Homo sapiens: one gene and its partners. The protein of the gene in region 1 purifies or fractionates together with the protein of each later gene. This does not show direct contact. Each region holds a gene or a part of one and is shown in the gene's direction. Other genes may lie near its edges. The genes, in order: NXPH2, CELSR2, HBA2, UBR1, EEF1A2, UBR2 and CELSR1.

Evidence for each region.
Region 2: the proteins of NXPH2 (region 1) and CELSR2 purify together in Homo sapiens (affinity purification with mass spectrometry; 3 studies listed by BioGRID and IntAct, with this or other methods). This does not show direct contact.
Region 3: the proteins of NXPH2 (region 1) and HBA2 purify together in Homo sapiens (affinity purification with mass spectrometry, with the first as the bait; 3 studies listed by BioGRID). This does not show direct contact.
Region 4: the proteins of NXPH2 (region 1) and UBR1 purify together in Homo sapiens (affinity purification with mass spectrometry; 3 studies listed by BioGRID and IntAct, with this or other methods). This does not show direct contact.
Region 5: the proteins of NXPH2 (region 1) and EEF1A2 purify together in Homo sapiens (affinity purification with mass spectrometry; 3 studies listed by BioGRID and IntAct, with this or other methods). This does not show direct contact.
Region 6: the proteins of NXPH2 (region 1) and UBR2 purify together in Homo sapiens (affinity purification with mass spectrometry; 2 studies listed by BioGRID and IntAct, with this or other methods). This does not show direct contact.
Region 7: the proteins of NXPH2 (region 1) and CELSR1 purify together in Homo sapiens (affinity purification with mass spectrometry; 3 studies listed by BioGRID and IntAct, with this or other methods). This does not show direct contact.

What each region holds. Positions count from the first base shown.
Region 1 is NC_000002.12:138,770,391-138,773,890, reverse strand, and holds part of NXPH2 (neurexophilin-2 precursor), read left to right. Parts: intron 1-3,500. UniProt on the Homo sapiens protein: May be signaling molecules that resemble neuropeptides and that act by binding to alpha-neurexins and possibly other receptors.
Region 2 is NC_000001.11:109,256,039-109,259,538, forward strand, and holds part of CELSR2 (cadherin EGF LAG seven-pass G-type receptor 2 precursor), read left to right. Parts: intron 1-2,393; coding exon 2,394-3,041; intron 3,042-3,500. UniProt on the Homo sapiens protein: Receptor that may have an important role in cell/cell signaling during nervous system formation.
Region 3 is NC_000016.10:171,665-174,210, forward strand, and holds HBA2 (hemoglobin subunit alpha), read left to right. Parts: upstream 1-1,211; 5' UTR 1,212-1,248; coding exon 1,249-1,343; intron 1,344-1,460; coding exon 1,461-1,665; intron 1,666-1,807; coding exon 1,808-1,936; 3' UTR 1,937-2,046; downstream 2,047-2,546. UniProt on the Homo sapiens protein: Involved in oxygen transport from the lung to the various peripheral tissues.
Region 4 is NC_000015.10:43,054,039-43,057,538, reverse strand, and holds part of UBR1 (E3 ubiquitin-protein ligase UBR1), read left to right. Parts: intron 1-1,096; coding exon 1,097-1,195; intron 1,196-2,639; coding exon 2,640-2,797; intron 2,798-3,500. UniProt on the Homo sapiens protein: E3 ubiquitin-protein ligase which is a component of the N-end rule pathway. Recognizes and binds proteins bearing specific N-terminal residues that are destabilizing according to the N-end rule, leading to their ubiquitination and subsequent degradation.
Region 5 is NC_000020.11:63,492,584-63,496,083, reverse strand, and holds part of EEF1A2 (elongation factor 1-alpha 2), read left to right. Parts: intron 1-48; coding exon 49-228; intron 229-982; coding exon 983-1,279; intron 1,280-2,796; coding exon 2,797-2,947; intron 2,948-3,500. UniProt on the Homo sapiens protein: Translation elongation factor that catalyzes the GTP-dependent binding of aminoacyl-tRNA (aa-tRNA) to the A-site of ribosomes during the elongation phase of protein synthesis.
Region 6 is NC_000006.12:42,686,029-42,689,528, forward strand, and holds part of UBR2 (E3 ubiquitin-protein ligase UBR2), read left to right. Parts: intron 1-2,187; coding exon 2,188-2,358; intron 2,359-2,958; coding exon of another isoform or gene 2,959-2,980; exon of another isoform or gene 2,981-3,500. UniProt on the Homo sapiens protein: E3 ubiquitin-protein ligase which is a component of the N-end rule pathway.
Region 7 is NC_000022.11:46,384,121-46,387,620, reverse strand, and holds part of CELSR1 (cadherin EGF LAG seven-pass G-type receptor 1 isoform 1 precursor), read left to right. Parts: intron 1-1,035; coding exon 1,036-1,219; intron 1,220-2,934; coding exon 2,935-3,078; intron 3,079-3,500. UniProt on the Homo sapiens protein: Receptor that may have an important role in cell/cell signaling during nervous system formation.

The sequences.
Region 1 (3,500 bases):
AAACAGAAAGACTAACTATTCCTGGGATTCAATCCAACTGTAAGCACGTAAATGTCTCTACAAATGAAACTTGACTTTGAGATATTGCTGCTTTTTTGCCACATAAAGTGATTCTAAGGTCATTAAAAACAAAATTTACATAAATTGTGTAAGTCTTTTCATGCAAGAATATGCAAGATTATGATTTTCAAGCTTTATCATATATAATGATAATTTTTAAATCTTATCAATTTAAGTTATATAGCAGGTATATTTATTCGCCCAAAACAGTAATTTAAGAAATAATGTATATTATTCAAAGGGAAAGAACACTTATGTAGTATGGCTGTTAAAAACACATGTGATTTCTATTCCCAAATTCCATTCCTCATTTGTGTGTGTAGACAGCTACTGAAAGTGGTTGATTAGTATAAAAATCTGTATGATCTTTTCAATGGATAATGCATACAATAAACGACTAGGGACCATAAAGCATCATTTAACATTTTGTAGTAATGATAACAGGAATATGTATTAATGAAGTTTTGCACTTGGATAGTTCAAACAGGAGACGATTGGGATTGGCTTGAGGAATATGGCTATGGAAATGGAAAAAAAGATGAAGTTTTCAAAAGCGTGTTTTCCGTAGTCTCGAATTTACCTGTTGCTCCTGTGTTGCTGACTCTCCAGCTTGTATCTCAGTTCCTACCCTGTTGCTCAGGCTCCAAGCCGGTGTCTCCATAACTTACTGTTCTGTTTTACTTGGATGTTTTACTGTTAACTCACACTCAACATGTGCAAGGCCACACACATCTGTGCTGAACAAGTGCCTTCCAACATTCATGGATTTGGATCTTGAAGTCACCACCATCCCATTTTTAATGTTTGGAGCCTTTGTGCTAAGACAAGTGACAGGATGTAAAGCACTACATGGTTTGCAAAATTCTTTCGTGGTTAATCTGTGCATCAGCTCTGAAAAGTAAGTAGAATGATAGTTATTGCATCCATTTTACAGGTGAAGCAACAAAAGCACACCACAGGTTTCAGAGACAGACTGTAGACTGCACAGATTGTAAATTCGAATCATCCACTTTGATGATGAGTGCTGTCTTTCTAGGTACTCATCACTGACACCCAGAGTGATGGACTTGAGGGACATTTCTAGGAAACATCCCACTCTGCTCAGTGACCACTGAGCTAGAAACCTTAATTCATTCATCTTAGCTTTGCCATAAAGTCAAATAAGTTGAATAGAACAAATGAATTCTTGGGGCATTTCTTTAATCTGGAGTTCTATTTAGAATTTAACCTCATGGGCCGGGCGCGGTGGCTCACCCCTGTAGTCCCAGCACTTTGAGAGGTCGAGGTGGGGAGATCACCTGAGGTCGGGAGTTCGAGACCAGCTTGACCAACATGGAGAAACCCCGTCTCTACTAAAAAATACAAAATTAGCCAGGCGTGGTGGCGCATGCCTGTAATCCCAGCTACCTGGGAGGCTGAGGCAGGAGAATTGCTTGAATCCAAGAGGCAGAGGTTGTGTTGAGCCAAGATCGTGCCATTGCACTCCAGCTTGGGCAATAAGAGTGCAACTCTGTCTCTAAATAAATAAATAATAAAATTTAACCTCATGGAGGCCAGTTGCCAAGGGTCTCAGCTTTAATGCCATTTTCATGTTAAGTTAGTAGCCAAGTAATGTGGCTCCAGTTAGGATCAGCAGAGGTTTTGAGAGTTCCTCTAACTTTTCAGGATCTCACCTATACCACTCCAGATGGAAAAGATAAAAAGGAGAGAGAAAGTGTGGGTTCACGGGCTGCTAAACCCTGGTTTTCTAGTGGACAGGTAGGAATATGAGGACAAGCAGGTGGGTGAGGGAACCTGTCTAGTAGGTGCCCAGACTTGTGTAGAATTTGAGAGCATTAATATATAATTTTACTTTACTAGTAGCACATGGCTTTTGCTCTCTTTTTCTTTCTTTTAATGAAAATATGTATTTTATTATAAAAGTAATATTGTAGTGGATGTTATTGGTTCTCCACCCAGATTTCTTTTGGGGAGGCACTTTGCCAGAATGCACTCAGAGCCACAGGTGCCATTCACTTCCTCTGGAAAGCTCTTGACTAGTGACTGACAGATGTCAGAGTATGAAAGCCCAGCTGCCTTGCCCCGACTCTGGACAGCTCCCAGATATAACTGAGGTGAAACAGATAATCTCGGTCTTCCCTGCAGGAGCAGGCTGAAGCTACCCTCTGCAAGACTTTGCCTGAGATCACGCACTTCCATGACTTTTTTCCCATTCTTTCACCAGCTGCCCTGCTCCCTTAGCAAGGCTTCCCCGGAAGTGCTTCTGTTTTAAATCAATAGCCCTCAAATACTTGCTTCAGCCTGTCCTTCTGGGGAACTCCATCTAAGATTTCTGTTTAATTTTTTTTTTTTTTAGTACTACTCAGAATTTCTTTAAGTAGCCATCCTCACCCCTGCCTGCTTTCTGCCACCTCATACCTTATACTCAGGGCATTATTAATAGTTTAACGTATGTCTTTCCAGATATTATGGATATGTATGCTTTTATAATAATTATATCATGCACAGTACCATGTTCTGTAACAAGCTTTTTTAATGCAATAGCATATTTTGGCTACTTTGATAGAGCAACTTATATTTTTAAAGATTCACTGTATTTCATGGCATTGATATGCCATAATATATTTAATCTTTCTAATTAATATTTAAATTGTTTTGAATTCTTTAATATAGTTGTAAGTATACCTGTAACACAAATTCCTAGAATTGAAAATGTTGGTTCAATTGAGAATGTATATATTGAATTTTGATAATTATAAATGTTTTCTGAAATGATTGTACCAATATAAGGTATTACATTGTATGTGCATGCCTGTATCACACTACCTGAATACTGGTATTTAAAAAAAAATTTTTGACAATCTATTAAAGGAAAGTACTTCATTGTTTTTAACATGTATTGTATACTGTATTACTTATCAGGTATATAAAGCATGTTTTCACATTTAATAACCATTTGTATTTCTTATTTTGTGAATTGCCTTTTTAAGTAATTTCCTGTGTTTCAGTTTTTTACAGCCTTTAAATTTTATAGTTTCTTTTTAATATTGCTCACGCACAATTGTTCTTTATTATTCCTGAATATCTGGTACATTATTAGGTTGTTATGGATATCTTTTTTATGGCTGACATTTTAAAATTCATTTTTGCTGGAATGTAAGGAAAACTATTTATTTTTGTATGTTTATGTTTGTATCTGTTCTATTTCTGAACTCAGTTATTAGTTGTAATATTTTTTATTTGATTCCCCTGGATTTTATGTCTAGACAATCATATCATCTGCAAATAATCTTATATTTGACTCTTTTTATTGAACATTATGTCTCATATTAAAATTTACTCTCCTAGAGAACTGTATAGAATCTTCAAAATATTATTGAATAATTCTGAAATTAAGCATGTTCTCATGTTTCCAACTTTAACATAAACTTTACTAAGTA
Region 2 (3,500 bases), on another chromosome or scaffold:
ATCAGTTATGGGCACTGTGTGTGGAGTCTTGGGCTGCTTTCTGCCTGGAGGGAATATCCCGTCAAGGAATCATTAGGCAGATATACCAGGTATACAAGAGCTCTGTGCCAGCTGAGCATCCTGGTGCGGGGAAGTCTGAAACGGAGAGGAAAGTAGAGCCTGATGACATAAATCTGGGCAGGCTTCCTGGAGCAGGTGAGCTAGGGCAGGTTAGAAGACTCAGAGGACTGTGGGCTGGTGTCTGGGTGGGAAGGAACAGCCTGTGCAGCAGCTTTGAGACGAGAGCAGGAGGAACAGAAGTGGGTGATGACAAGCAGGCTTGCTGGTGAGAGCTAGTGAGAATAAGCAAGTGATGAGGCTGGAGGGTAGGTGGGCAGTCGGCTGAGGACATGGCTGAGATGGGGGTCTGCTTTCAGCCTTCCCGGCTTCAGCTGAGCCACCGCTGGTACAGTCAGCCACCGCAAGTAGGTACAACACAGATGCAGAATTTGTTCCCATGTCCCTTGCCTACTCCCACCCCACCCCAGAAACATGGGCTCCTGCCCCGTTACTGCTAGGGTAAGCATTTGCTTTTTATATCTAGTTGGGCTCCCCCTGCTATGTGGTTTTGTTTGTTTGTTTGGGACAGAGTCTCACTCTGTCACCCAGGCTGGAGTACAATGGCGCGATCTCGGCTCACTGCAACCTCTGCCTCCTGGGTTCAAGCAATTCTCCTGCCTCAGCCTCCTGAGTATCTGGGACCTCCTGAGTAGCTGAGATTACAGGCACCCACCACCACGCCCAACTAATTTTTGTATTTTTAGTAGAGACGGGGTTTCACCATGTTGGTCAGTCTGATCTCGAACTCCTGACCTCGTGATCCACCCGCCTCAGCCTCCCAAAGTTCTGGGACTACAGGCGTGAGCCACTGCGCCCGGCCCCCTGCTATGTTTTAAAGTCCGTTTATTCTTTGTGGAGACTGAATAGATTGTCATCCACATCTCAGTGTTTTCTGAACACCTACTATGTGTAAGGCATTGTAATAAATACAAATATGAATATGCCAGTAGCTCATGCCTGTAATCCCAGTGCTCTAGAAGGCTGAGATGGAGGATCACTTGAGGCCAGGAATTTGAGACCAGCCTGGACAACACAGCAAGACCCCATCTCTACACACAAACAAAAATTAGCCAGGCATAGTTGTGAGCACCTGTGGTCTCAGCTATTTGGGAGGTTGAGGTGGGAGGATCGCTTGAGCCCAGGAGTTCGAGGCTACAGTGAGCTATGATCGTGCCACTGCTCTCCAGTGTAGGCGACAGAGAGTCTGTCTCTTAAAAAAAAAAAAAAAAAGACTATCCCTTCTTGCCCTGTAAAGCCATTTCCTCCTTCTCCAGGCCCCAGCTTTCATTTTTTAGCTAAATAAAATTCATTCCCATGTGTATGTGCATTCAGGTGTGTATGGTATTTCTGGGCTTAGGGTGTGTGGGTGGAATGAGACACCAGCAAGTGTGTTTTAGTGCTTAGCTGTTTATAAGTGAGTGTGTTGCCTGGGGGCATAGCAGGCATTTGGGTGTAATGGTTGAGCCAAGTGGGTGATGAGTAGCTAGAGGCCCTAGGACCAGAGAAGAGACTGACTCAGTGGGGCTCTGGGGTCTCAGAGTGGAGAGCTGCCCAGGCCCTTCTATCTCTGCCTTCCGGTCCCCCACCCCGACTCACCCTGTCTCCAGCATGGGGCAGTGGGTGATGATGTCACTGGTTAACGTGGCTCAGCTGGATTTCCTGGGGTGGGGCCCCCCAGGCTACCCACAGCAGCCCAGAGAGTTGGGCGGGAAGAATGCTTTGTGTTGGATGTTGCCATGGGGATAGCAGGTCTGCGCGCCCAAGCAGCCATGGGGCTCAGTGGGAGGGGGACTAGGTGGCCCACTGACCCAGTTTACCCACTCCCCCCCACCCCCGCCAACTCCCTGCTGCTGTGGGGGAGTGGGGAACACAGCCATGGTTGCGATTATCGTGGTGTTGAGGTGTAGAGGCTGAGGGGGCAGGGGGATGATTTTTGTGGGTCTCAGGATGCTCTGGGCCCTGTAGAAAAGTATGAAAAAGACAACATAGGGTTCCCGCGCAGGCAGCACAGACTCTGGGGGAAGGGAGCAGGAGCGGTGGCTTGGGCAGGGAAAGGTGCACAAACATTAAGAGGTGTGCCGTGCATCAGCGACAGAAGGTTTTGGGAAAGGATGCAAAGAGAACTGCAAATCTCATCCCCTGAGCCCTGAAGGAGTGATTGGCCCACACGTGACATACCTGGCTCAGCACCCTTATGCCAGTTGGAAAGGAGAGCCTTTCTTGGTGGGTGGTGCAGGAATATGCAGGCTGAATTGCAGCCCCAGGCTGGGTCCTGACTGTGTCCCTCTCCACAGACGGCGTACACAGCGTGACCGCCCAGTGCGCGCTGCGTGTGACCATCATCACCGATGAGATGCTCACCCACAGCATCACGCTGCGCCTGGAGGACATGTCACCCGAGCGCTTCCTGTCACCACTGCTAGGCCTCTTCATCCAGGCGGTGGCCGCCACGCTGGCCACGCCACCGGACCACGTGGTGGTCTTCAACGTACAGCGGGACACCGACGCCCCCGGGGGCCACATCCTCAACGTGAGCCTGTCGGTGGGCCAGCCGCCAGGGCCCGGGGGCGGGCCGCCCTTCCTGCCCTCTGAGGACCTGCAGGAGCGCCTATACCTCAACCGCAGCCTGCTGACGGCCATCTCGGCACAGCGCGTGCTGCCCTTCGACGACAACATCTGCCTGCGGGAGCCCTGCGAGAACTACATGCGCTGCGTGTCGGTGCTGCGCTTCGACTCCTCCGCGCCCTTCATCGCCTCCTCCTCCGTGCTCTTCCGGCCCATCCACCCCGTCGGAGGGCTGCGCTGCCGCTGCCCGCCCGGCTTCACGGGTGACTACTGCGAGACCGAGGTGGACCTCTGCTACTCGCGGCCCTGTGGCCCCCACGGGCGCTGCCGCAGCCGCGAGGGCGGCTACACCTGCCTCTGTCGTGATGGCTACACGGGTGAGCCAAGGGAGGGGACTCATGGGCCAGCCCTGGAAGGCTGACTGTGTGGTGCAGGCACAAATCAGGACAAATGCTGGCGGCTGCCTCATTCTCTTCCCGAGTGAGGTGCAGCTACACTGAGAGGTCATAAATCCGGCCTGCTCCCTGACAGCACCCCACTGAGGAAGGCAGTGCAAGGAGTGCTTCTCCCTGCTGTGCACAGGACACACAGGCAGTGCCATTGTGGGCAGAGCTGGCTCCAGAGCCAGTCGGCCTGTGTTCGTGTATCAGCTTTGCCGCTAGTAGCTGTGTGACCTTGAACAAGTTACTTAACCTTTCTGGCCCTCGGTTATTTGAAATGGAGATAATGACCGTACTTAGGTCATAAGTTGGTTGTGAGGATTAATGTAATTAATTTGATACTTGGAAACAGCTGGTGGCATGGAAGGTGTTGGCCTTGATTTAAGGGAACGCTGA
Region 3 (2,546 bases), on another chromosome or scaffold:
GGCGTGCACCACCACACCCAGCTAATTTTTGTATTTTTAGTAGAGACGGGGTTTCTCCATGTTGGTCAGCCTGGTCTCGAACTCCCGACCTCAGCTGATCCACCCGCCTTGGCCTCCCAAAGTGCTGGGATTACAGGCGTGAGCCACCGAGCCTGGCCAAACCATCACTTTTCATGAGCAGGGATGCACCCACTGGCACTCCTGCACCTCCCACCCTCCCCCTCGCCAAGTCCACCCCTTCCTTCCTCACCCCACATCCCCTCACCTACATTCTGCAACCACAGGGGCCTTCTCTCCCCTGTCCTTTCCCTACCCAGAGCCAAGTTTGTTTATCTGTTTACAACCAGTATTTACCTAGCAAGTCTTCCATCAGATAGCATTTGGAGAGCTGGGGGTGTCACAGTGAACCACGACCTCTAGGCCAGTGGGAGAGTCAGTCACACAAACTGTGAGTCCATGACTTGGGGCTTAGCCAGCACCCACCACCCCACGCGCCACCCCACAACCCCGGGTAGAGGAGTCTGAATCTGGAGCCGCCCCCAGCCCAGCCCCGTGCTTTTTGCGTCCTGGTGTTTGTTCCTTCCCGGTGCCTGTCACTCAAGCACACTAGTGACTATCGCCAGAGGGAAAGGGAGCTGCAGGAAGCGAGGCTGGAGAGCAGGAGGGGCTCTGCGCAGAAATTCTTTTGAGTTCCTATGGGCCAGGGCGTCCGGGTGCGCGCATTCCTCTCCGCCCCAGGATTGGGCGAAGCCCTCCGGCTCGCACTCGCTCGCCCGTGTGTTCCCCGATCCCGCTGGAGTCGATGCGCGTCCAGCGCGTGCCAGGCCGGGGCGGGGGTGCGGGCTGACTTTCTCCCTCGCTAGGGACGCTCCGGCGCCCGAAAGGAAAGGGTGGCGCTGCGCTCCGGGGTGCACGAGCCGACAGCGCCCGACCCCAACGGGCCGGCCCCGCCAGCGCCGCTACCGCCCTGCCCCCGGGCGAGCGGGATGGGCGGGAGTGGAGTGGCGGGTGGAGGGTGGAGACGTCCTGGCCCCCGCCCCGCGTGCACCCCCAGGGGAGGCCGAGCCCGCCGCCCGGCCCCGCGCAGGCCCCGCCCGGGACTCCCCTGCGGTCCAGGCCGCGCCCCGGGCTCCGCGCCAGCCAATGAGCGCCGCCCGGCCGGGCGTGCCCCCGCGCCCCAAGCATAAACCCTGGCGCGCTCGCGGGCCGGCACTCTTCTGGTCCCCACAGACTCAGAGAGAACCCACCATGGTGCTGTCTCCTGCCGACAAGACCAACGTCAAGGCCGCCTGGGGTAAGGTCGGCGCGCACGCTGGCGAGTATGGTGCGGAGGCCCTGGAGAGGTGAGGCTCCCTCCCCTGCTCCGACCCGGGCTCCTCGCCCGCCCGGACCCACAGGCCACCCTCAACCGTCCTGGCCCCGGACCCAAACCCCACCCCTCACTCTGCTTCTCCCCGCAGGATGTTCCTGTCCTTCCCCACCACCAAGACCTACTTCCCGCACTTCGACCTGAGCCACGGCTCTGCCCAGGTTAAGGGCCACGGCAAGAAGGTGGCCGACGCGCTGACCAACGCCGTGGCGCACGTGGACGACATGCCCAACGCGCTGTCCGCCCTGAGCGACCTGCACGCGCACAAGCTTCGGGTGGACCCGGTCAACTTCAAGGTGAGCGGCGGGCCGGGAGCGATCTGGGTCGAGGGGCGAGATGGCGCCTTCCTCTCAGGGCAGAGGATCACGCGGGTTGCGGGAGGTGTAGCGCAGGCGGCGGCTGCGGGCCTGGGCCGCACTGACCCTCTTCTCTGCACAGCTCCTAAGCCACTGCCTGCTGGTGACCCTGGCCGCCCACCTCCCCGCCGAGTTCACCCCTGCGGTGCACGCCTCCCTGGACAAGTTCCTGGCTTCTGTGAGCACCGTGCTGACCTCCAAATACCGTTAAGCTGGAGCCTCGGTAGCCGTTCCTCCTGCCCGCTGGGCCTCCCAACGGGCCCTCCTCCCCTCCTTGCACCGGCCCTTCCTGGTCTTTGAATAAAGTCTGAGTGGGCAGCAGCCTGTGTGTGCCTGGGTTCTCTCTATCCCGGAATGTGCCAACAATGGAGGTGTTTACCTGTCTCAGACCAAGGACCTCTCTGCAGCTGCATGGGGCTGGGGAGGGAGAACTGCAGGGAGTATGGGAGGGGAAGCTGAGGTGGGCCTGCTCAAGAGAAGGTGCTGAACCATCCCCTGTCCTGAGAGGTGCCAGGCCTGCAGGCAGTGGCTCAGAAGCTGGGGAGGAGAGAGGCATCCAGGGTTCTACTCAGGGAGTCCCAGCATCGCCACCCTCCTTTGAAATCTCCCTGGTTGAACCCAGTTAACATACGCTCTCCATCAAAACAAAACGAAACAAAACAAACTAGCAAAATAGGCTGTCCCCAGTGCAAGTGCAGGTGCCAGAACATTTCTCTCATTCCCACCCCTTCCTGCCAGAGGGTAGGTGGCTGGAGTGAGGGTGCTGGCCCTACTCACACTTCCTGTGTCACGGTGACCCTCTGAGAGCAGCCCAGTCAGTG
Region 4 (3,500 bases), on another chromosome or scaffold:
CTATCTACCAAATTAGATTGCAAGGGTATACAGATCAAGGACTCCTTTGAATCTTTTATTTTGCCTTATATAAGGCAATCATACTTGCCAGTCATACTTGTTGATTTCCTCTGATTTTGAGTTGCAGTCAATTCTGTAAGACTTAAGATAGATATAGGACCCAAGATGGAATTGGAAGCAGAGAAAGAAATAATGATTGTTGTAGGCAAATGACACTGTGGGATAAGATACCTGCATTACCTGGATTTTATATGCAGACTTAAAAGTAACTAAGACATTTGTTGTATGTCTTATCCTTCAGCAGTGATGGCAACTCAAGATGTTCTCTTCTAAAACTCTTCAGATATAGAATATTGGACCATATGTGTGATCTGAAATGAAATTTTGTTTTCTTATACAAAAGCTAATCTCCCTACTTAGATGATTTTTTTTGTACACCATGGTTACCCCTTAAACTTTGTAGGAATTCTGGAGGGTAAAGTATCTAACTTAAAGTAGGTTAAGTATCCAACTTTGTGCCTTACACATAATAGATGCCTATTATGTGACTGAGTATATTCCTATTTTTGTTCTCCCAGTATATCAGGGTTGTTTTGCAGCTGTTATGTACCAGTATGGGAAAGAAGTTATTTGCAGCCAGCATCCATTCTGTTTAAGGCTGGATTCAATCTGATTGGTTGGTTTTTCTGGGTCATATCAGTTGTTAAATACTTTGAATATATTCCCTGCCCAATACCATTAGAGTGGAAGCTGCTAAAGATTGCCCCAGATTCTGTTTGGAGAAAGGATAAACTATACCATTGCAGTCCTCTGTTTTTTGTTTGTTTGTTTGTTTGTTTTTTAACCTATGTGTATATTTTAATAGTTTCCACTTCTATCTCTGCTAAATTGAGTAGGTGAATTTTTACTTGATTTGTTGTTTGTTATTCTCCTTCTAAGATATTTTTGCTGATCATAATATCTTGCCTTAATAAATAGGAATTATATTACTTGACATTTTATAGATAGAAACAAACCTGCAGCAGTTATTAAAATTGGGATTTTTTAAAGGTCTTTAGTAGTGATTTATAATTGATTCTCTACTTATATATTTCAGTATTATAAACAACTGCAGAAAGAATATATCAGTGATGATCATGACAGAAGTATCTCTATAACTGCACTTTCAGTTCAGATGTTTACTGTTCCTACTCTGGTATGTATTGATTATTCCTTTTCAGTCTTTCTAAGTAAAACTTGTTTTGCTTTGTAAGAATTCCACTTAATGTTGAATCAAATTAGAACAATGTTAGAATCACTAAGTTGGGCTATGTGAATACTTTAGTGCTACCCAAGGACTAGTTAACTAGGCGCTGCCTTGGTTCAGATGTCCTCGTCAATGCAGATGACACCTAGAGCTGGTTTCTTACTTTCTAGAGTAACTTATGAACACTGCCTTTTCAATACCAAAAATATTTTATTTTTAAGTTATTGTTTGTAGGCAGATAGAATAAGATAAAACTAAGAAGTGGGAGGGTGTGCCTGTCAAGCATTTGGGAGAGAGGGTGCTGCATAGGCCTGGGAGGAGAGTGGAAGATTCTGCTTCCTTTGTATACCACTTCTTTTCTTTGTTTTTTGTTTCTTGAGACAGAGTCTTGGCTGGGTTGCCCTGGCTGGAGTGCAATGGGACGACCTGGGCTCACTGCAGCCTCCGCCTCCCGGGTTCAAGCGATTCTCATGCCTCAGCCACCCAAGTAGCTGGGACTACGGGCAGGCACCACCACGCCTGGTTGATTTTTGTATTTTTAGTAGAGACGGGGTTTCACCATGTTGGCCAGGCTGGTCTCAAACTCCTGACCTCAGGTGATCTGCCAGCCTTAGCCTCCCAAAGTGCTGGGATTACAAGTGTGAGCCACCGCGCCCAGCCCTACTTCTTTTCTTGTCTGGAATTAGATAGTTATCCAAACTTGGTTAATTGTTTCTACTTTACTTTTTCAAAAGGATGGAGAGGAGAGTTTAGATTGGGGTAAGGAGGAGATTTCAGAATAGATCGTAGTGTGCTAGAAGTCATGAAGTATATCTTTGTTATACTTGCTCATTGTGTGATTTTTTTTTTTGAGATGAAGTCTCTCTCTGTCACTCAGGCTGGGGTGTAGTAGCACGATCTCGGCTCACTGCAACCTCCGCCTCCTGGTTCAAGCGATTCTCCTGCCTCAGCCTCCTGAATAACTGAGATTACAGGCATTGCCACCACACCTGGCTAATTTTTGTATTTTTTGTGGAGATGGGGTTTTGCCATGTTGACCAGGATAGTCTCGAACTCCTGAGTTCAGGTGATCCGCCTGCCTCGGCCTCCCAAAGTCCTGGGATTACAGGCATGAGCCACCACATTACTGATGATAAACATTTATCTAGATAACCTGTCTAATGGGCTTGGAGTATCCAGATAGGTGTTGTCTAGTTACTGAGGAGTAGGGAATTTTTTCTTTTAGAAAATAACTTCTTAGTAGTTGCTATTCAGTGAAACTAAGGACTGTGTTTAACATTCAATAACAAACATTTATTAAAAATGACATACTGACTAACCAAATGAATGAATAAATTAAGTCCATACCACAATGAGTTAATGCTAAAGAAAATATTCTTGAAATATTCCGCAGGCTCGACATCTTATTGAAGAGCAGAATGTTATCTCTGTCATTACTGAAACTCTGCTAGAAGTTTTACCTGAGTACTTGGACAGGAACAATAAATTCAACTTCCAGGGTTATAGCCAGGACAAATTGGGAAGAGTATATGCAGTAATATGTGACCTAAAGTAAGTTGTTCAAGTCAAAAGGTGAGGGCACCTGTTAAACTCAGTGTGCTTATTTGCTGTGTCTTATAAGTAATCCTGTGATCATTTTGGTTATCCAGAATTCTCTTTATAATGATGGCAAGTACAAAGAACTGTTACTGCCTCGCGTTAATAAATGTCTTCAGTGAAGGCTTCTTATTGAGTTGTAAAACCTGGTTAGTAAAGAAGGTATTGAGGAGAGGCCCATTACAGGAACTTGGGATCTCCTGGGGTCACCAAATGCATTGCCATTGTAATTACCATACTTTTCATTCACTTCCACTCACACACTTTGGTTCTGTCCTTCCTATATAGTCTCTTTGTGCATAGTTTCAGACAATCTATTGACATAAATTTCTTTCTTTTTTTTTTTGAGACAGGGTCTCGCTGTGTTGCCCAAGCTGGAGTGCAGTGATGCAAACATGGCTCACTGAAGCCTCAACCTCCTGGGCTCCAGTGATCCTCCTGCCTCAGCCTCCCATGTAGCTGGGACCACAGGCACGTGCCACCATGCCTGGCAAATTTTTTATTGTTTTGTAGAGACGGAGTCTCACTTTTTGTTGCCCAGGCTGACTTGGACTCCTGGGGTCAAGCAGTCCTTCTGCTTTGGCCTCCCATAGTGTTGGGATTACAGTCATGAGCTACTGCGGCTGGCTGTTAACATTTTTTTAACTCCTTTTTGCTA
Region 5 (3,500 bases), on another chromosome or scaffold:
TCCTGGGTCCCGGGTCCCGCCCTCAGCCGTGACCCTCACCCGCTCCAGATGGGGAAGGGATCCTTCAAGTATGCCTGGGTGCTGGACAAGCTGAAGGCGGAGCGTGAGCGCGGCATCACCATCGACATCTCCCTCTGGAAGTTCGAGACCACCAAGTACTACATCACCATCATCGATGCCCCCGGCCACCGCGACTTCATCAAGAACATGATCACGGGTACATCCCAGGTGAGCAGGGCACAGCAGGCGGGGCTGGGGGAGAGGCCGCTGCACCCTTCAAGGGACACTGGGGGCCCCTGGGGTCACTGGGATGGTAGGGTCTCCTGTGCTTCCTGTGAGGGCAGGGGACCCCTCACCTGGGCCACCCTCACCCAGTCTGGCTCAGAGCCCCCCTAAGGATGAATCCAGTGCTCTGGCATCTGAACCAGTGCCTGTGAAGGCATCCAGCCAGTGTCAGAGTCCCCAGATAGATGGGGGCAGATGGGGACGTGGACACACCTTCATACATGGAGGGGTTGGAGGCCAGGATGGGGAGAGTGAGCAGTGGGCAGAGGTGCCACCCGCCAGGTGTAGACTGTATGACATTTCAGGGCACTCACAGAGACGCACGGACACCCCAGACACAGCACCCTGCAGACAGCAGGACACATGCCACCACCTCCAAACTGCTTTGATAACTGTGACTTCTATCCGTCCTCAAGTGAGGAACAGGAGCAGATAGGCTGAGTGACTTGTCCAGGGACACACAGCCCACTGGTGGTGGAGCCAGGGCTGAACCTCGGTCCCCTGACCCAGGGCCTGGCGATGAGCCCCCATGCTGCCCTTGAAGTGGGGACCCCCATGCCTCCCTCCCCAAGGCCCCAGTGGGCTGCTCAGGCCCCAGCCCGCTGCCTGGAGAGGCCTGGAAGTGAGGTGGGGCCAGGCTCGCTCTGTCCCCTGCCAGGCAGGCGGGGCAGGGCTCACTGTGTCCCCTGCCGGGCAGGCGGACTGCGCAGTGCTGATCGTGGCGGCGGGCGTGGGCGAGTTCGAGGCGGGCATCTCCAAGAATGGGCAGACGCGGGAGCATGCCCTGCTGGCCTACACGCTGGGTGTGAAGCAGCTCATCGTGGGCGTGAACAAAATGGACTCCACAGAGCCGGCCTACAGCGAGAAGCGCTACGACGAGATCGTCAAGGAAGTCAGCGCCTACATCAAGAAGATCGGCTACAACCCGGCCACCGTGCCCTTTGTGCCCATCTCCGGCTGGCACGGTGACAACATGCTGGAGCCCTCCCCCAACGTGAGTGGCGGCTAGGGCGGGGCGGGCCACGGGAGCTGGCTGGACCCCCTGGCCCAGAGCGAGGCACCGGCAGGTGGCACGGGGAGGTCGAGGGCCTGTCCCCGGGAAATGCAGGTTCCCCTCGAAACCTGCTGGGTTTCCCTAACTGGCTCAGGGCCCGGCGGGGAGCCCCATGCCCCTCAGCACCGGGCTTTGCTCCTACACTCAGCCTCCCACGCGGCTGGCCGGGGCCAGGGCCCATCTACGATGTCAACACAGCAGGGGCAGCGGCCTCCAGCACCAGGCCCATGTGCTTGGTCTCCAGAGCCCTGCCATGGGGGCGGTCGGTTTCATCTCTGCCAGGCCATTGTCCTGGTCCTGGACACCGTGCAGGGGCTTTGGGCTGGGCCGTGGGGGCCTCCTTGGCTGCCTCCCCTGGGATCTTGGAGCAGGGTTGGGCTTTGGGAAGTGTGCATGCTTCTGGGCTTGCTGGGATGGCCAAGGGTTGGCTCTTGGCCGGTCACCTGGGAGCTCAACGTGCGAACAGTCTGTAGCCCAGGGACTCTGCCTTGGCTGGAGGTGACGCGTGGAGACACTTGCAGAACCTGAGACTGTTCCCAGGGTTCTCCAAGCCAGAGGAGACCCCAGAATGGCCACCACTAGGCTCTGCCAGCACTGTCGCTGCCCACAGTGAGGGTGCAGGTGTGGAGTCTAGAGACAGCAGGGAGACAGACCAGCAGCACTGAGCCTGGAGCTGAGGTCTGGGGACAGAACTGGGAGGGACTCCCCCAGCTCCGCCTCCATCTCACGAGGCTCGGTGTTGTTTACCTGTGATGGCGTTTTCCTCATGGGGTATCATGTGGCGAACGCCACTCTCCCCTCCCCAGGGAGGCCTCCAGCCATCAGGGACCCTGCACTCCCCTCTGGCCTGAGCTGCTAGGTGGCTCGTGCTTACACAGGCCCTGGGGGGCTGGGGCACTGTGCTGCCGGCCCCCTCCCCTGCTCCCTGTTTGTGGCAGGTGGCCCAGAGGGAGGCTTCATGGGATGGGAGTGGGGGCCACACTAGGAGAAGCTCCGGACAAGGCTGGGCCAAGCTCGGAGGCAGCACGGTGTCCAGAAGCTAGGGTGGGGCGAGGCTCCTCCAGCTCTGTCCCTGGCCTGGCCCTTGGCCAGACTCAGCATCCTCCTAGTCAAGTCATCTGCCCTGCCTGGAGCTGATGGTCAGGGGCCCGGGGTTTCGGGGACTTGGGGCTGGACTGGGGATTTGTTCACAGTGTCAGCAACTCCTGAGCAGCCTGGGCTGGGAAGGGTGCTTTCCCTCTTTGTCCTCCTCCTTTTAAGAGGGATCTCCTTCCCAGAGTCCCTGTGATGCTGGGGCTATGGGCTGGGGAGGAGCAGGGTGGGGAAATTCCTCATCTCAAAGGGCACGAGGCAAGTTTAGCCTGAACAGCAGTACTCCTGGAAGCACCCTGGGGAGGCCTGAGGGTGGGGAGGCCACCAATGTCTCTTAACGGATTGATTTTCTCCCTTTGGTCCAGATGCCGTGGTTCAAGGGCTGGAAGGTGGAGCGTAAGGAGGGCAACGCAAGCGGCGTGTCCCTGCTGGAGGCCCTGGACACCATCCTGCCCCCCACGCGCCCCACGGACAAGCCCCTGCGCCTGCCGCTGCAGGACGTGTACAAGATTGGCGGTGAGCAAGGGCGCTGTGCTGGAGCTCCTGCCTGGCCAGCTCTGCCTGCCCTAGACCAGGGGCCCCTACAAGGCATCTCAAGACTGGGCTGTCTCCAATCTCTCCCCTTACCACACACTTTCTGTGGGACAGTCCATCCCACATCCATCCATCCATCCACCCACCTCCCCACCCATCCATCCTCTGTCCATCCATCCACCCATCCATCTATCCACCTCTCCATCCATCTATCTATCCATCCATCCATCCATCGATCCATCCATCTCCCCACCCATCCATCCTTCACTCCATCCATCCATCCATCCATTGTCCCATCCATCCTTCTCTCTATCGAACCATCCCTCCATCTCTCCATCTATCCACCTCCCCACCCATCCATCCTTCTGTCCATCAATCCATCCATCCATCCATCCATCCACCTCTCCATCCATCCATCCATCTCCCCACCCATCCATCCTTCTCTCTATCCATCCATCCATCCATCCATCCATTGATTGTCCCACCCATCCATCCTTCTCTCTATCCCTCCATCCATCCATCCATGCATCCATCC
Region 6 (3,500 bases), on another chromosome or scaffold:
AACTATATAAGTTTCTATTCTTGAGCAGCATGTATTGTTATTTTGTATGTTTTTTTTTTAATTAGTATTTATTGATCATTCTTGGGTGTTTCTCGGAGGGGGGGATTTGGCAGGGTCATAGGACAATAGTGGAGGGAAGGTCAGCAGATAAAGATGTGAACAAAGGTCTCTGGTTTTCCTAGGCAGAGGTCCCTGCGGCCTTCCGCAGTGTTTGTGTCCCTGGGTACTTGAGATTAGGGAGTGGTGATGACTCTTAACGAGCATGCTGCCTTCAAGCATCTGTTTAACAAAGCACATCTTGCACCGCCCTTAATCCATTTAACCCTTAGTGGACACAGCACATGTTTCAGAGAGCACGGGGTTGGGGGTAAGGTTATAGATTAACAGCATCCCAAGGCAGAAGAATTTTTCTTAGTACAGAACAAAATGGAGTCTCCTATGTCTACTTCTTTCTACACAGACACAGTAACAATCTGATCTCTCTTTCTTTTCCCCACATTTCCCCCTTTTCTATTCGACAAAACCGCCATCGTCATCACGGCCTGTTGTCAATGAGCTGTTGGTTGCACCTCCCAGATGGGGTGGCGGCCAGGTAGAGAGGCTCCTCACTTCCCAGACGGGGCAGCCGGGCAGAGGCGCCCCCCACCTCCCGGACGGGGCGGCTGGCCGGGTGGGAGCTGCCCCCCACCTCCCGGACGGGGCAGCTGGCCGGGTAGGGGCTGCCCCCCACCTCCCGGACTGGGCGGCTGCTGGGCGGAGACGCTCCTCACTTCCCAGACGGGGCGGCTGCCGGGCGGAGGGGCTCCTCACTTCTCAGACGGGGCAGCCGGTCGGAGACACTCCTCACCTCCCAGACAGGGTCGCGGCCGGGCAGAGGCGCTCCTCACATCCCAGACGGGGCGGCGGGGCAGAGGCGCTCCCCACATCCCAGACGATGGGCGGCCGGGCAGAGACGCTCCTCACTTCCTAGACGGGATGACGGCCAGGAAGAGGGGCTCCTCACTTCTCAGACTGGGCGGCCGGGCAGAGACGCTCGTCACTTCCTAGACGGGGTGGCGGCCGGGCAGAGGCTGCAATCTCCGCACTTTGGGAGGCCAAGGCAGGCGGCTGGGAGGTGGAGGTTGTAGCGAGCCGAGATCGCGCCACTGCACTCCAGCCTGGGCAACATTGAGCACTGAGTGAGCAAGACTCCCTCTGCAATCCTGGCACCTCGGGAGGCCGAGGCTGGCAGATCACTCGCCGTCAGGAGCTGGAGACCAGCCCGGCCAACACGGCGAAACCCCGTCTCCACCAAAAAATACAAAAACCAGTCAGGCGTGGCGGCGCGCGCCTGCAATCCCAGGCACTGGGCAGGCTGAGACAGGAGAATCAGGCAGGGAGGTTGCAGTGAGCCAAGATGGCGGCAGTACAGTCCAGCCTCGGCTCGGCATCAGAGGGAGACTGTGCAAAGGGGAGAGGGAGAGAAGAGAGGGAGAGGGAGAGCTGTATGTTGTATTTTATTTTATTTATTTATTTATTTATTTATTTATTGAGACAGGGTCTCACTCTGTTGCCCAGGCTGGAGTGCAGTGGTGTGATCTTGGCTCACAGCAACCTCCGCCTCCCAGGTTCAAGTGATTCTCCAGTCTCAGCCTCCAAAGTAGCTGGGACTACAGGTGCACACCACCATGCCTGGCTAATTTTTGTATTTTTAGTAGAGACGGGGTTTCACCATATTGGTCAGGCTGGTCTCAAACTCCTGACCTCAGTTGATCCACCCACCTTTGCCTCCCAAAGTGCTGGGATTACAGGCGTGAGCCACTGCACCCAGCCAATTTTGCATTCATTCAGCATTGTTTCTAAGATTTATCTGTATTGACGTTTATAACTTTATTGATTTTTCATTGCTCCATAGTATTTTATTATATGGCAGTGGTACCGTTTATCTTTTTCTCCTATTGATGATTTTATTTATTTTTTTTTCTCCAGTTACTGATTCTTTTGAGTGTTTCCAGTACATGGTCTTTGTATATATGTGCAAGATGTTTCCTATTCCAGATTCTAGGAATAAACTTGCATAGACTGTAGGATATACACTTCTTTGGCTTTACTTGATATTGCAGAATTCTTTTCTGGGCTGGTTTTTTCATCACTAGCTCTTTAGCCACTCTTTAGATCAATGACTTGTGGGTTTTTTATCCCTTGGAGGTGCCCGAAATCAGGTGGTGATAAGAGCAGAGCCCCAACTCTGTGCCTTGTGTGCGGATCTCTGCTGTGCTCCCAGAGTTACTGCTGCCAGACTGAACTGGAAGGGGAGGATGTAGGAGCCTGCACAGCTCACACCTACTCCTGTGGCTCTGGAGTGGGCATCTTCCTGAGGTAAGGACCTGCAGGGGCTTTTTAGCTTTGGATCTGCCTCAGTATCTGACTGTTAGGGTGTCACAGGAAACTACTATATTGCCAGGAATTTTGAGACTACTGTTCCGTGTGATTCATTCCAGAAACGTGGAGCTCCTTGTCGCCTCACATCTCACATCTGGTCCATGCCAACTCTGTGTTGGTTCTTTTATTGTTACCATTCCCACTCCTCTTCCCTCAACCATAGGTGACAGTTCTGTTCTACTTTCTCCATGTCTCCCACTAATGTGAAACTTCTCTGATTTTCTGAACAAATCCAGTCAGAATTACTCTTTCTGTTATGTCCTCATGGCTTTTGGATTTTACCTCCACTTATACATATTATCACAACTCTACATGCCAGCTTGTGATTAGTGACTACTATGTACCAGGCATTGAGGATGCAGTAGTCCACAGTGCAAAGATCTCTGCCCTTATGGATGGAGCTTGTTTTGTATGAGAGAGAGGACAAGCAAGACTGACAAGAATTTAGATAGTGATATAGGCTAAGGAGAAAAAATAAAGCAGGGAAGGGGAATATGAAATGGCAGCTATGGAGCTAAATTTGAGATTTAATTTTAGTAGATCAGGGAAGGCTTCCTAAGAACATGACTTCTGAGTAAAGACCTAAAGAAGTGGGAGAACATTCTACTCAGAACATTCTGCACAGTTCCTGGGGTAGAAATGTGCCTGTCTGCTCAAGGCAAGGAGGCGCGTGTCACTGGAGTGTTGTGCACAGGTGAGAGAATCCAGGGGCCTGCTGTGTGCTGGTGACATCTCTGGGCAAGGTGTAAGCCATTTCAGGGTTTGAAGCAGAGGCATGACATGAGTGTGGGCTCCTCTGGAGCATAGGTTGTATCCATAGCTTAGTCATCCCCCCAGTACCTTGATAATTTCTTATACGTATTAGGTCCTCAATAAATGTCTGTTTAATTGTGCTGTACTATTAATGCCAGAAAAAGGCAAATGTCTCAAAGGGATCAGGGGACACAAATTTGACTCGATTCAACCTATTTCCTAGTTTGTGCACAATTTTTTAATGGATAACTTCCTCCTAATAGTGGTTTAAATATCAGTACTATAAGACTTCATTCTATTTGGAACTGAATACAAATGTTGGTTAC
Region 7 (3,500 bases), on another chromosome or scaffold:
TTGGGAGGCCGAGATGGGCAGATTGCCTGAGCCCAGGAGTTCGAGACCAGCCTGGGCAACATGGTGAAACCCTGTCTCTTCTAAAATATGAAAAAAATCAGCTGGGCGGGGTGGTGGGAGGCTGAGGCACGAGAATTGCTTGAACCCGGGAGGCAGAGGCTGCAGTGAGCCAAGACTGTGCCACTGCACTCCAGGCTGGACAACAAAGTGAAACTCTGTCTCAAAAAACAAAAACAAAACAAACAAACAAAAAGACTTCCTTATCTATTTGAATTCAACTTTGATTAATGTTTGATCCTATTTATAAACTTAGACCATGAAATTCCCCTAAGTATTTTAAATGGAATTAATATATGTCATGTAGTTGATTTTTTGTTTTGTATTTCAATTGTTCGGCTAGCAAACAGACCTTCCAAGCATTTAAGCAGTGCTTGTACATCTAGTAAATTAAGCTAAGAATATGAAGCATCTTTAATTCTCTAGATTTTAATATACTTTGTGAGCTTAGTAACATTTTTTTATTCCTCTTAAGATAAACTTTTTGAAAAAATATTTGGGAACTAGGCCAGGCGTGGTGGCTCACGCCTGTAATCCCAGCACTTTGGGAGGCCGAGGCAGGTGAATCACCTGAGGTCAGGAGTTCAAAACCAGCCTGGCCAACATGGTGAAGCCCCGTCTCTACTAAAAATACAAAAATTAGCCGGGTGTGGTGGCACATGTGTGCCTGTAATCCCAGCTACTCGGGAGGTTGAAGCAAGAGAATTCCTTGAACCCAGGAGGCGGAGGTTGCAGTGAGCCGAGATGACACCACTGCATTCCAGCCTGGGCGACAAGAGCGGAAGTGTGTCTCAAAAAAAAACACAAAAAACAACAAAAAACAAAAAACAACTAATATTAAAGAGCACAGTCTAAAGTGTAGGGCTGGAATGAATGAATGAGCCCACTAGGCAAGCAAAGGCTTTCAGGGCAGGTGTCCCTCCGTCCCACGAGCCAGGCCTCCGCAGGCTGAGTACTGAGTGCTGTCTGTCTGACCAGGACGTCATCCACTCGGGCAGCGCCCTCCTGGCCCCAGCCACCAGGGCGGCGTGGGAGCAGATCCAGCGGAGCGAGGGCGGCACGGCACAGCTGCTCCGGCGCCTCGAGGGCTACTTCAGCAACGTGGCACGCAACGTGCGGCGGACGTACCTGCGGCCCTTCGTCATCGTCACCGCCAACATGAGTAAGGCGCTGGCTGCGTTGGGGGTGGAACCCTGCTACCATCAGGGGTGTGCCCCAGAGCTAGGCCCCCATGGGGTGAAGCAGGTGGGCTCCCGGCCCCCCCTTGGCCATGCTCTTAGAAAAATGATTGTGAGGCCGGGCACAGTGGCTCATACCTGTAATCCCAGCACTTTGGGAGATCGGGACAGGCAGACCACATGAGGTCAGGAGTTGGAGACCAGCCTGGGCAAAATGGTGAAACCCCATCTCTACTAAAAATACAAAAAGTAGCCAGGTGTGGTGGTGCATGCCTGTAATCCCAGCTACTCAGGAGGCTGAGGAAGGAGAATCACTTGAACCTGGGAGGCAGAGGTTGCAGTGAGCTGAGATTGCGCCATTGCACTCCAGCATGGGTGACAGAGCGAGACTCCATCTCAAAAAAAAAAAAGCCGGGCGCGGTGGCTCACGCCTGTAATCCCAGCAATTTGGGAGGCCAAGGTGGGCGGATCACAGGGTCAGGAGATCAAGACCATCCTGGCTAACATGGTGAAACCCCGTCTCTACTAAAAATACAAAAAAGTAGCCGGTCGTGGTGGTGGGCGTTTGTAGTCCCAGCTACTCGGGAGGCTGAGGCAGGAGAATGGCGTGAACCCGGGAAGCGGAGCTTGCAGTGAGCCGAGATCATGCCACTGCACTCCAGCCTGGGCGAGAGAGCCAGACTCCGTCTCAAAAAAAAAAAAAAAAAAAAATATTCGGCAGGTAGGCCTCTGTTTCCTCATCTGTAAATGGAGCCTTTGGGAAGACAGTCTGTGATGACGTACCCGTGGCTCCCAGGGGACAGGTCCCGGGCTAGGGAGATGTTGGGCCATGATCTTGGGGGTCCGGCAGGGCTTCCAAACCCTCAGGTGTGAGACTCTAGAAGGGTGGGTGTCGAGGACCCCGCCTCACTCCAGGCTCACTGTAGACAGGTGTAAGTACAGGCGGGATGCAGGAAGTTGGAAGTCAGTTCTGTTCTAAAGATGGTCAGTCAGCTGGGCGTGGTAGTTCACACCTGTAATCCCAGCACTGGGAGGCTGAGATGGGCAGATTGCTTGAGCCCAGGAGTTCGAAACCAGCCAGGCGCCATAGTGAGACCCTGTCTCTATTAAAAATAAAAAATAAAAATTAGCCAGGTGTGGTAGCATGCTCCTGTATTCCCAGCTACTTGAGGCTGAGGTGGGAGGATCGCTTGAGCGCAGGAGGACGAGGCTACAGTGAGCTGAGATTGTGCTACTGCACTCCAGCCTGGGTGATAGAGTGAGATCCTGTCTCAAAAATAAATATAAGTAAATAGGCTGGGCGTGGTGGCTCATGCCTGTAATCCCAGCACTTTGGAAAGCCGGGGCATGCAAATTACTTGAGGTCAGGAGTTTGAGACCAGCCTGGCCGACATGATGAAATCCCATCTCTACCAAAAATACAAAAAATTAGCCAGGCGTGGTGGTGCCTGCCTGTAATCCCAGCTACTTGGGAGGCTGAGGCAGGAGATATTGCTTGAATCTGGGAGGCGGAGGTTGCAGTGAGCTGAGATTGCGCTACTGCACTCCAGCCTGGGAGACACTGCGAGACTCCACCTCAAAAATAAATAAATAAATATGGCCAGCCAGCGTCAGTGTGACAGTTGTGGTCATTTTGAAAACAGCAGGGGTTCAAGAAAGCCCTGGGAGTTATGTCTGATTAAAGGAACTGTCCCCCCAGTTCTTGCTGTCGACATCTTTGACAAGTTCAACTTTACGGGAGCCAGGGTCCCGCGATTCGACACCATCCATGAAGAGTTCCCCAGGGAGCTGGAGTCCTCCGTCTCCTTCCCAGCCGACTTCTTCAGACCACCTGAAGAAAAAGGTAAAACCGCTTAGAAACCTGCTGCTGCCCTCGGAGTCCCCAGCGTTCAGGGAGGGGAGGGCCCCGCTGCGGGCATCGCAGGACCTGCGCACTGAAGATCTGGGCCAGAGTGTTCCGAGTGCTCTCTGGTGCCAGGTCCTGTTGGTGACAGCAGGTTGTTTTGTTCAAGTGCTCAGGTACAGGCTGAACATCCTAATCCTGAAATCTGAAATGCCCCAGAACCTGAACCTTCTTGAGCACCAACCTGACACTTAAAGGAAATGCTCATTGGAGCGTAAGCATGAAACAATAAAAAAATCAAAATCCAGGCCAGGCGCGGCGGCTCACGCCTGTAATCCCAGCACTTTGGGAGGCCGAGGCGGGCAGATCACCTGAGGTCAGGAGTTCGAGACCAGCCTGGCCAACGTGGTAAAACCCCGTCT